Linked DNA regions of Homo sapiens. The protein of the gene in region 3 purifies or fractionates together with the protein of the main gene of each other region. This does not show direct contact. Each region holds a gene or a part of one and is shown on either strand. Other genes may lie near its edges.

The links.
Region 1: the proteins of COL4A3 (region 3) and UNC13A fractionate together in Homo sapiens (co-fractionation; one large-scale study listed by BioGRID). This does not show direct contact.
Region 2: the proteins of COL4A3 (region 3) and OTUD6B fractionate together in Homo sapiens (co-fractionation; one large-scale study listed by BioGRID). This does not show direct contact.

The regions. Positions count from the first base shown.
Region 1 is NC_000019.10:17,639,855-17,643,354, reverse strand, and holds part of UNC13A (protein unc-13 homolog A), read left to right. Parts: intron 1-394; coding exon 395-510; intron 511-1,798; coding exon 1,799-1,962; intron 1,963-2,693; coding exon 2,694-2,844; intron 2,845-3,446; coding exon 3,447-3,500. UniProt on the Homo sapiens protein: Plays a role in vesicle maturation during exocytosis as a target of the diacylglycerol second messenger pathway.
Region 2 is NC_000008.11:91,080,344-91,083,843, forward strand, and holds part of OTUD6B (deubiquitinase OTUD6B), read left to right. Parts: intron 1-325; coding exon 326-387; intron 388-3,500.
Region 3 is NC_000002.12:227,282,768-227,286,839, forward strand, and holds part of COL4A3 (collagen alpha-3(IV) chain precursor), read left to right. Parts: intron 1-999; coding exon 1,000-1,089; intron 1,090-1,443; coding exon 1,444-1,578; intron 1,579-4,072. UniProt on the Homo sapiens protein: Type IV collagen is the major structural component of glomerular basement membranes (GBM), forming a 'chicken-wire' meshwork together with laminins, proteoglycans and entactin/nidogen.

The DNA.
Region 1 (3,500 bases), on a different chromosome or scaffold from region 3:
GATCTCAAAAAAAAATAAAATAAAAAAAAATTTGCCCATGGCTGGCCGGGCGCGGTGACTCACGCCTGTAATTCCAGCACTTTGGGAGGCTGAGGTAGGTGGATCACCTGAGGTAAGGAGTTCGAGACCAGCCTGGCCAACATGGTGAAACCCCGTCTCTACTAAAAGTATAAAAATTAGCTGGGCACGGTGGCAGGCACCTGTAATTCCAGCTAGTTGGGAGGCTGAGACAGGAGAATCGCTTGAACCCAGGAGGTGGAGGTTGCAGTGAGCTGAGATCGTGCCACTGCACTCCAGCCTGGGTGACAAGAGCAAGACTCCCTCTTAAAAAAAAAAAAATTGCCCACTGCTATAGTGGGAAGTTCTGACACTGTCTTCTTTTTCTGCCCTGCAGACAAGCGAACTGACAAATCTGCCGTGTCGGGTGCCATCCGGCTCCACATCAGTGTGGAGATCAAAGGCGAGGAGAAGGTGGCCCCGTACCATGTCCAGTACACCTGTCTGCATGAGGTGAGGGTCATTGCTCGGCCCCTCCCATGCCACTTCCACTCACCATTCCTGCCTGCCCAGCTCTTCCTCTTTCTGGCCACACCATCCACACTCTCCTGGCCCTCTGAGACTGCCCGCCATGCCATTCCCTTTACCTGGAAAACTCCTCCCTATCCATCAAAGTCCAGATTCAGGGTCACCTCCTCTGGGAAGCCCACCTTGGCCTCCAGGTTGACTCTCACTACTCATCATCAGGTTCTTCCTTCTATTCCAGCCCTAACCACTCAGGATTGGGCCGTTTGTGTCTGGGTATGTCTCTTCCAGCTGCCTGGGTTTCCTGGAAAGAACTCTTATCCCCAGGAACTAGTTTGTTGAATAAATGCTGGTGAATGAATGAATGATTGAACAGATGAATGAGTGATGAGTAGATAAAAGGATGGATGGAGAGATGGGTGAGTACATGGATGGATAGATGGATGAGTTGGTGGGTAGATTCGTGGCTAGATGGATGATGGATGGATGGACAGATGGATGGATATATGATTGAACTATTGAAAGTATAGATGTATGGATGGGTGAATTTGGGGGTAATTGTTAGATGATGGATGAGTATAGATGAATGATGGATGGATAACTTGATGAGTGGATAGATAGATTGCTGGATAGATGATTGACTGGGTGGATAGATGAAATGTTGGATGAGCAGATTAAGTTGTATTGGATGGGATGGATGGAAGTGTGGTTGAGTTATTAGAAGGAAGATTGAGTAGATAGGTGAATTTGTTGATAGTCAGATGGGTAGATAGGTAGATGGATGGATGGATGGATGGATGTATAGGCAGATGGACAAATGGATGAATGGGTGGGTGGATGAATGGAAGGATGTGTGGTTGAACTATTGCAAGTATTGATAATTGGGTTCATAATTTCTGAATATTTAGATGGATGGTTGTGAGTGGCTGGTGGACAGACGAAAAATGGATGGTTGGATAAATTGATGGGTGGATGGATGGTTGGTTGTATGAAAGAATGAATGATTGGGTAGGTGGATTAAGTTGCGGATCAATGTATGGGATGGATGAATGGATGGATGGATGGATGTGTGGTTGAATTACTGAAAGGTTGGAAGAGTGGATGGGTGAAATTTGGGGTAGTTAGATGGGTGGGTGTGTGGATGGATAAAAGAGTAGATGAATGAATTAATGAATAAACAGGCAGATGGATGATGTAAGCTGCCCCAGACCCTGGGACCTCTGACCCCCGGCGACCCCTTGCACTCTCCATGACACTTTCTCTCCCATGGTGGCAGAACCTGTTCCACTTCGTGACCGACGTGCAGAACAATGGGGTCGTGAAGATCCCAGATGCCAAGGGTGACGATGCCTGGAAGGTTTACTACGATGAGACAGCCCAGGAGATTGTGGACGAGTTTGCCATGCGCTACGGCGTCGAGTCCATCTACCAAGCCATGACGTGAGACTGCAGGCTGGGGTGCAGGAAACAAGAGGGAGGTCACCAAGTGGGCACTGGCAGGTCTGGGGTGGGAGGGATTCTCAGGGGGAAGACCCAGAGAGGAAGTGGGCGTGGTGGTGGTGGGTTCCGTAATTCCCCTGGAGATCAGGAGAGCGCTGTGATTGACACCTGGAGTGACATGGAAGAGAGGGAAGACTTAGAAGCAGAGATAGAGGCTGGGCACAGTGGCTCAAGCCTGTAATCCCAGCATTTTAGGAGGCTGAGGTGGGCGGATCACTCCAGGTCCAGGAGTACAAGACCAGCCTGGCCAACATGGTGAAACCCCATCTCTACTAAAAATACAAAAGTTATCCAGGTGTGGTGGCTTGGGCCTGTAATCCCAGCTACTCGGGAAGTTAGGGTGGGAGAATTGCTTGAACCTGGGGGGCAGGGGTTGCAGTGAGCCGAGATTGCGCCACTAAACTCCAGCCTGGGTGACAGAGTGAGACTCCATCTCAAAAAAAAAAAAAAAAGAAAGAAAGAAAAAAAGAAGCAGAATTAGAGCAACTCAAATGGATATAAAGATGGAGGGGAGAGGAGATGCGGAGACCCAAAGGACAGAATCAGGCAGGGGATGGTTTAGGAGGTGACAGAGACCCACTCACAGATGCTATCTTGGAGGCATTCTAGGGGGGATCTTGGTCCATCCTGGCTGGACCCCTGGCCTAGTGCCTCCTGCTCCCTCTCTCCAGCCACTTTGCCTGCCTCTCCTCCAAGTATATGTGCCCAGGGGTGCCTGCCGTCATGAGCACCCTGCTCGCCAACATCAATGCCTACTACGCACACACCACCGCCTCCACCAACGTGTCTGCCTCCGACCGCTTCGCCGCCTCCAACTTTGGGGTCAGTCCTGGGGACTGGGATTGGAGAATTAGGGAGAGCCCAACTTTATGCCGGTCAGATCTGATGTGACTTCTGGGTCCCCAGTCTAGACCTGATTGCTGTGTGACTTTCCACCAGTCACTTCCCGTCTCTGAGCCTCCATTTATTCCTCTGTAGAATGCTATAGAATGGAGGTCGGGCGCAGTGGCTCATGCCTGTAATCCCAGCACTTTGGGAGGCCGAGGCTGGAGAATCACTTGAGGCCAGGAGTTCGAGACCAGCCTGGCCAACACGGTGAAAACCCGTCTCTTCTAAAAATCCAAAAGAAAATTAGCTGGGTGTGGTGGCCTGTGCCTGTAGTCCCAGCCACTTGGGAGGCTGAGGCAGGAGAATTGCTTGAGCCTAGGAGTCGGAGGTTGCAGTGAGCTGAGACTGCGCCACTACACTCCAGCCTGGGCAACAGAGCAAGACTCTGTCTCAAAACAAAAAAAAAAATGCCATAGAATGGAAATGGACATTATGAGGGTGGTGGATGAGGTATACTTACTGTACAGTAGGCGCTCAGCCACTATGGCGGCCATGTCCTGCCTCCATCCATCCTCCCTCCTCCCCTTCCTCCTCAGAAAGAGCGCTTCGTGAAACTCCTGGACCAGCTGCATAACTCCCTGCGGATTGAC
Region 2 (3,500 bases), on a different chromosome or scaffold from region 3:
AGATAGTGAATATGGTGGCAATTTTTGGGGTCAACGCTTGGGGTAGAGTGAGGTAGGTTTGTTATATAGGGAGGGTATCTGGGCCTCCAACAGAAGAAGAAAAGCAGAAATGGACTGCTTTGTTCTTGGATGGAAATGTGGTAGAAAGTTGGGGTGAATTAAGTTTGGACCTGGGAGTTAGATTAGATTCTGGAGGATAATGGTAGAGAAGGAGAATGTTCATAACTTGGGCATTTTTGTCAGGAATTGTGGGAACTATAAAAGGGATTTTGTAACATGAGTTACAAAAATTATTAAGTGCTGTATTCTGACCTAATCTCTACAGAAGAATTTCAGAAGTACTGTGAAGATATTGTAAACACAGCTGCATGGGGAGGTCAGCTTGAGGTAAGTTTGTAGTTATTCATAGTGATTGTGGGTTGTTAAATTATTTCTAAATCCCTTCTGTAGTTTTTAGATGTTTCTCAGCTGATCCCAATTTCTCTTTGAAGATTCCTTTTCTTTATATATTTGCTCTTCTCAACTGACAAAGAAATAGGGAGTTAACATGATTAGGTCTGTGATTAAAGTATGTATGTTGAGGGATTGAAACACTATTACATTTTAAATAGCTCAGTGTTAGATCTGTGTGTTAGAAATACATATGTGTAAGTCTTTTCATCGTGATAGTAGTATTGGCAATACATTTGATTTTCTGGACTTAGGAAAATGAAAATTTTACTGAAGTAAAGTAAAATTTAGCCTAGTAGCTCAGCTGATCAAAGTCACTATTGGAAAAATATCTTTTTTACATCAGAAATGGAAAAAAAAAATTATGTGAAATTATAGGCCAAATCCTACCACAACATATATATTAAAATCGTATTTTGAATTCCTAATTGATAGTGACTGACTTACTTGAAAGCAGTAGTTGGTGCATTAAATTCATATGTAAGAAAACAGTATGTTCAGTCACTTACAGGAAGTTATCAAGATTACTTTTTAGCTCTAATTTTAAAAAAATCTTACTGTTAACTTTGTTTTGTTAAAAACAAACAAACAAACAAAAAAAACAGGTAGGTAGGCCAGATGGTGATGAAGCAGCCTGGGTATTAAATAGGATAAGAAAGAAAGTTCTGGGTTCAGGTCCTGGCATTTTCTTCCACCCCTCTGTTTTGTGGCCACAGGGGAGTCAGCCATCCTCCCAAGCTTGAGTTTCTTGATTACTATATGGCCATAATAAACCCTCTCTGTGTATTCAGTTGAGCATTTTTGAGCATTAAGTAAGGCAGAGAGTACCTGCATAAAAGTTTGTAAGCTGAAGTGCCAGATGGATGAACCTAGGCAGTACGATTAGTAATATATAATGATGATTAATCATCATGAATAGTCTGTGGCTCTAAATAATTCACTTTAAGAACTGCTTCATTTGAAGATGCAACATGAATGTTGCCCCAAAATCTTTTTCTTAGTACTGCTGTGTATGTGCATTTCCACCAGAGGGAACTGTATCCATTAGTTTTGTATGCCTCGGAAACTCAGGAAATGTTCATAGTAGCTTTGTTACTACTACATTAGGAATAATTAAAAATGCTTGAACTTTCTTAAAAGGATCATTCATATGAGTATTAGAGATTAAATCAAGAAATTAAGAAAAACCTTTTAAAACATCTTTTGAGGGACACTTATACATTTTTTTCATCTGTGAATTCATTTGAAGTAAGAGTTGCAGTTTTCACAATAGAGTAAATTTAAGTTATTAAAGAAAATCATTCTATGATCTCTGAAGTTAGAAGGCATAGTAGGATTCCCAGAGTTTGGTTCGCATCCTCTATTCTATGCTAGTTTCTTAAAAATGATATTTTAGGTATAAGAAAAATGTACCTCAAAGGAACGTTTTTGATTTACCACCATGCAGCAGAGTGCTTTCCATATTTTTGAAGTAATTTCTTAAATTCTTTCAAAACCTCAGGAAGGAGTATGTTCATCAATGGAATGTTCTTGTAATGGGGCAAGTACATATCCCATAGTGCCCCCATAGATCGGGGCATTATGATTTTTACTTTCTTTTTGAGACAGAGTCTCACTCTGTCACCCAGGCTGGAGTGCAGTGGTGCCACCCATCATTGTTCACTACAGTCTCAATCTTCTAGGCTTAAGCTTTCCTCCCACTCCTGAGTAGCTGCACCACCATGCCTGGCTAATTTTTGTATTTTTTGTAGAAACGGGGTCTCCCTGTGTTGCCCAGGCTGGTCTCGAACGCCTGAGTTCAAGTGACTTTGACAAGTCTTGTAACCCTTTTTTTGCCTCAGATTCTAGGTCTTTAAAATAACGACAGTACCCATCCCATAAAGTTATTGAGAGGATTAAAGGAATTAATACACATAAAGTACTTAAAATGCTTGAGTGTTTGGTCATATGTCTTTTTTTTTTTTTTTTTTTTTTTTGAAACAGGGTCTCACTCTGTCACCCCAGTTGGAGTACAGTGGCGTGATCTTGGCTCACTGCAACCTCTGCCTCCCGGGCTCAAGTGATCCATCATGCCTGGTTAATTTTTGTATTTTTTTGTAGAGACATGGTTTTACCATGTTGCCCAGTCTGGTCTCGAATGCCTGGACTCAAGGTATCTGCCTACCTTGGCCTCCCAAAGTGCTGGAATTATGGGTGTGAGCCACTGTGCCTGGCCCGTAATCATAATAAGTCTTTAAAAATGTTAGCATTAATGTTCAATATTCACCATTATTCATCTGGCTTTAGGCTCTAATTTTATATTGTATGGTATGAAATTACTTAAAATTGTATATTTTAATCAAATAGAAATTCATTGATAGGGCAGTACAATTCATATACATATTCTACTCTTTGAAAATTATAGAACAGTGGTTGTCAACAGTATTTGTAGATTAGAATCATCTGAAAAACTTTAAAAAAATAAATATTTTGTTCTTCCCCCTGCCCATTTTCTCACATTGTAATTTATTTGGTCCGGTGCTTGAGCAATGGTATTTAAAAATTTTTTTTGTTATGAACATTTTCAAGCGTATTCAAAAGTAGACTAGTATAATATACCTAGTCTACCCATTGCCCCTCTTCATTAACTGTGGCATTGATATTTTTTACAAAGCTTTTGTGCAGGCAGGGCTTGAGCAGTCTCTGCATTTGATTTAATAAATACAAGTTGAGCATCCCTAATCTGAAAATTTGAAATTCGAAATGCTCCCAAATCAAATTTTTTGAGGGCTGACATCACAAGTGGAAAATTCTACACTTGACTTTATGTGACAGGTCACAGTTCAAACTTAGTTTCATGCACAAAGTTATTTAAAATGTATAAAATTACCTTCATGGTGTGTGTGTAAGATATGTATGAAACATGAATGAATTTTGTGTTTAGATTTGAGTCCCATCCTCAAGATATCTCATGTAGTATATGCAAATACTCCCAAATCTGAAAAATTCAAAAACTAAAACAATTCTGGTTCCAGGCATTTAGGATAAGGGATATTCAACCTGTATTATAT
Region 3 (4,072 bases):
CTATAATATACTTGCTAGTATTTTGTTGAGAATTTTTGCATTTATATTGAGAAGGGATATTGGTCTGTAGCGTTCTTGTGATGTCTTTGGTGTTGGTGTCAGAGTAATGCTGGTCTGATGGAACAAGCTGGGAAGTGTTTCCTCCTCTTGTATTTTCTGGAACAGTTTGTGAAGAATCGACGCTCTTTAAACATTTGGTAGAATTCACCAGTGAAGTTATCTGGGTCTGGGCATTTCTTTTTGGGAAGTCTCTAAATGACTAATTCAATCTCTTCATTTCTTATAGGTATATTCAGGTTTTCTATTTCTTCTGGAGTCAGTTTTGGTATTCTGTTTCTCTAGAAACTTGTCCATTTTTATAAGTTATCTGATTTGTTGTTGTTGTTCATCATATTTCTGTATAATTGTTTTAATTTCATGGCTATGTTTATTGTTTATATGTTTGGGGAGAATATTCTGTTCCCTCATGGCATAAGGACCTCACCGATCTCCCCTCTGGAAAAGAGCCTAAAACAACTTAATCGACACATTATCCTTTCATTCATGTTATTGGGCTACTATCACATGCCAGCATTCTTCTAGGCCCTAGAGACACATCAGTCAGTGGACAAGTCTCCCCTTCTCATAGTAGAGGATCAATAATAGAAATATTTAAAATCTAAGTTCAATTTGAGACAAGTGTTATGAAGAAAATAAAGTGAAGGGATAGAATAGAAAGTGACTGGTCAGGGGCTGGGAGGATGGAATGCTCCAAAACTTCCACATATGCTATCCTCATCCATGAATATGATTTGCTACCAATCACTTCCACATAGGTGAGTTTAAAAGACCACTTACCGACCCATCTCCTAGACTAATACAGTAATTGTACTATGTACAGAGGCCATTTTTTCAACTCCCAATCTCTGCTTCTAAGTATAATTTATTTTAGTATATGGAATATTTTGCTTTTCTCACTCTGTACAACACGTGCTGCTTTGTGTTAATTTGTTTCCATAGGTGAAGATGGAGTGATTGGGATGATGGGCTTTCCTGGAGCCATTGGCCCTCCAGGGCCCCCTGGGAACCCAGGCACACCAGGGCAGAGGGGTAAGTGATAGAGTGTCTTTCTAAATAGCAGGAAGCATAAACAATGTTCATTTATTTTGCAGCAAAAAAAGTTATGTTTCATTGGAGGGAAAAATAGTTCTGAGAGAGCAACAGTATTTGATTTTGCTGTTTTCTATGTTCCTTTTCTCCATTTGAATGGAATCCTGTTTTCTGTAGGCTTACACCACTACCCTTATGAGGCTGCCTGCCTGGGGAAACTATTTATCAAGTTCTCAGCACTGTTAGCCTTTTTTGTTTGATTTGTTCTGTTTTATAGTAAGCACTGCCAACTTTTTAATCCCTATGAACTACCTGAAGAATTAAGGACCTGATGTTGTTACTCCTGTCTGTTAGGGAGCCCTGGAATTCCAGGAGTAAAGGGCCAGAGAGGAACCCCAGGAGCCAAGGGGGAACAAGGAGATAAAGGAAATCCCGGGCCTTCAGAGATATCCCACGTAATAGGGGACAAAGGAGAACCAGGTCTCAAAGGTAAAGAATTGCTTGTTTGGAATCAGGACATCAGAGCTGATTCTCAGGCTAATAAATTATCCAGGCAAATCCGTTTGGTTGACAAATAAGGACAGTGAGGGCCAGTGTTTAGTTACCTGCCCATCACACAGCCGGTTGGTGGCTGAGCAGGCCTTAGAACTGAGTCACCTTCCACGACATGTTGCCTCCTCGATGTGTAACATTTTTATTTCTAAGTTAATTCTGCATTTTAATTTGCTATATTTAAATCATCAGCAGTCAGTTTTTAAATTATAAGCCTCAAAACTCCCTCTTTGCCAAGTATGGGGAAAATTAAACCCTTAAAAAAATTCCACATTAAAAAACTTTTCTGGCTGATGTTGAAACCTCCATCTCAAATTCAACTTTATTCTGTAGACTACCAGAATAATATTTTCTGATTCTATCTAAAAACTTCTTCTCCTGTTCAAAATCCTTTGGAGAATAATTACTAAAAAGAAATGCTTCAATGAAAATTTAACCCTTTAGAAAGACTGTTGTTAGATGTGGCTACTAGGCTAAAATTCAAACCCATTCACATTATTTCAAGTTATTTGGGCCCTTTTTATGGCAGTTTTCATGATATGATCAATACGACCAATATAAAACCAAATTTTCAGAAGCCCTCCCTTGCAGTCTTCTTGACCAAATGTAATCCCAAGCAACTTTAGAAAAACAGAGAACTGCTGGGTAAAATATTACATTTGCAGATCAGACTCTCATAGCAGGAAAGGAATAAAAGAAAAATGTATCATGGCAAGAAAGGAAAAAAGAAAAATGTGTTTGCAGTTGCAAAACCATGTTAAGTTTTGAGATATTTGAAATGACTTTTGAGAAATGAGACTGTGTTCAACAAATATTTATATGCATGGCACATGAGGATGTAACAAACCTTCACATGTACTGCCAAACCTAAAAAAAAAAAAAAAAAAAAAAAAAAATTTGCACAGGGTGCTGTAGACTACAATATAAAGGCTGACTAACTGGCAAGTTAGGAAGTAAAGGCCTTCTATGTACATAGTCCTCATCTAACCTGGTGTTGAAGAGACACTTTAGTTCTGGTACAAAAAGAATATTGCATTTCATTTTTAGCAATGAAAAAGAAAGTAATGCGACTTTTATAAAACTCTGCTAGGACTAGTCTAAGCCAAGATATGAAAAAAAAAAATACTGGCACCAATCTCCAGTCCTCATAAACTGTCTGCATAGACACCACTTCACTAGACTATTTTAGATTATTTAAGTAGTGTTAGAAACATTTTGGAAAAAATATGAATAGCATATCTCTGCCTACATAAGCAGAAATTTGGCGCTCACAGTATAAATGCGCAGTGAGTACTAATTTGCAATTGAAGAATTCCTTTTGTAAAGTACAGAAGGACACATGATATGGGGCTATTTCTATACTTCCAACAAAACTCTTTTACTCACCCTAAGTACAGTATGCATCGAGGCTGTTCTGTATGTTTTCTTTAGGCTTTTCAAATGCATAACCAAGGGACACAGATTGAAGAACAACAAAAAAATAACCTGTATCTAGGCCTCCCTAATTTCAATATGATCCATTTATTTTTCTAAATCTGAATTTCTGACTTAAAGCTATTCACTTCAAATGTGGAAGAGATATTGAATATACAGAGAAGCACAATAACAAGTCACTATCCTCTCCACAAGGAGGCTGCGTGGCAGACTTAGGCATATGTAGAAAAAGATAATAAAGACGCGAGGTGCAAATTAGCATGCTATATTATTTAACAACGACCTAAGTAGCATTTACCATGTGCAGGTACTGTTCCAAGTTTTACAACTATTGACTCATTTAATCCTCACAATAACCCTAGGAGTAGGCTGGGCACAGTGGCTCACGGCTGTAATCCCAGTATTTTGGGAGGCCAAGGCGGGTGGATCACCTGAGGTCAGGAGTTCGAGACCAGCCTGGCCAACATGGCAAAACCCCATCTCTACTAAATATACAAAAATTAGCCAGGGTGGGCGGGGTGGGGAGCCTGTAATTCCAGCTAGTCAGGAGGCTGAGGCATGAGAATCGCTTGAACCTGAGAGGCAGAGGTTGCAATGAGCTGAGATTGTGCCACTGCACTCCAACCTGGGCAACAGAGTGAGGCTCTGTCTCAAAAAATAAATAAATACATAACCCTAGGAGTAGGTACTACTATTGCAATCATCCCATTTTACATACGGGGAAATAGGGAGGTCAAGTTACTTGCCCAATGACACTCTGATAGGAAATGGCAGAGATGGGCCTCACTCTTGGCCTCCTCACTGTGCTGCCAGAGCTCTGTAGGAGTTGAGGGAAGTAGAAAATACAGCAACTAAGATAGTCAGTGAAACCTCCATAAAAGAGGACTTAAATGTTGAATAAGATTCAGATGAACAAATAAAATTCTTGGCTTAAAATCTTTCCAAGGCTCCCTGTGCTTTGAGAAGTGAAACTTCTTGGACTGACATACAAGTTTAT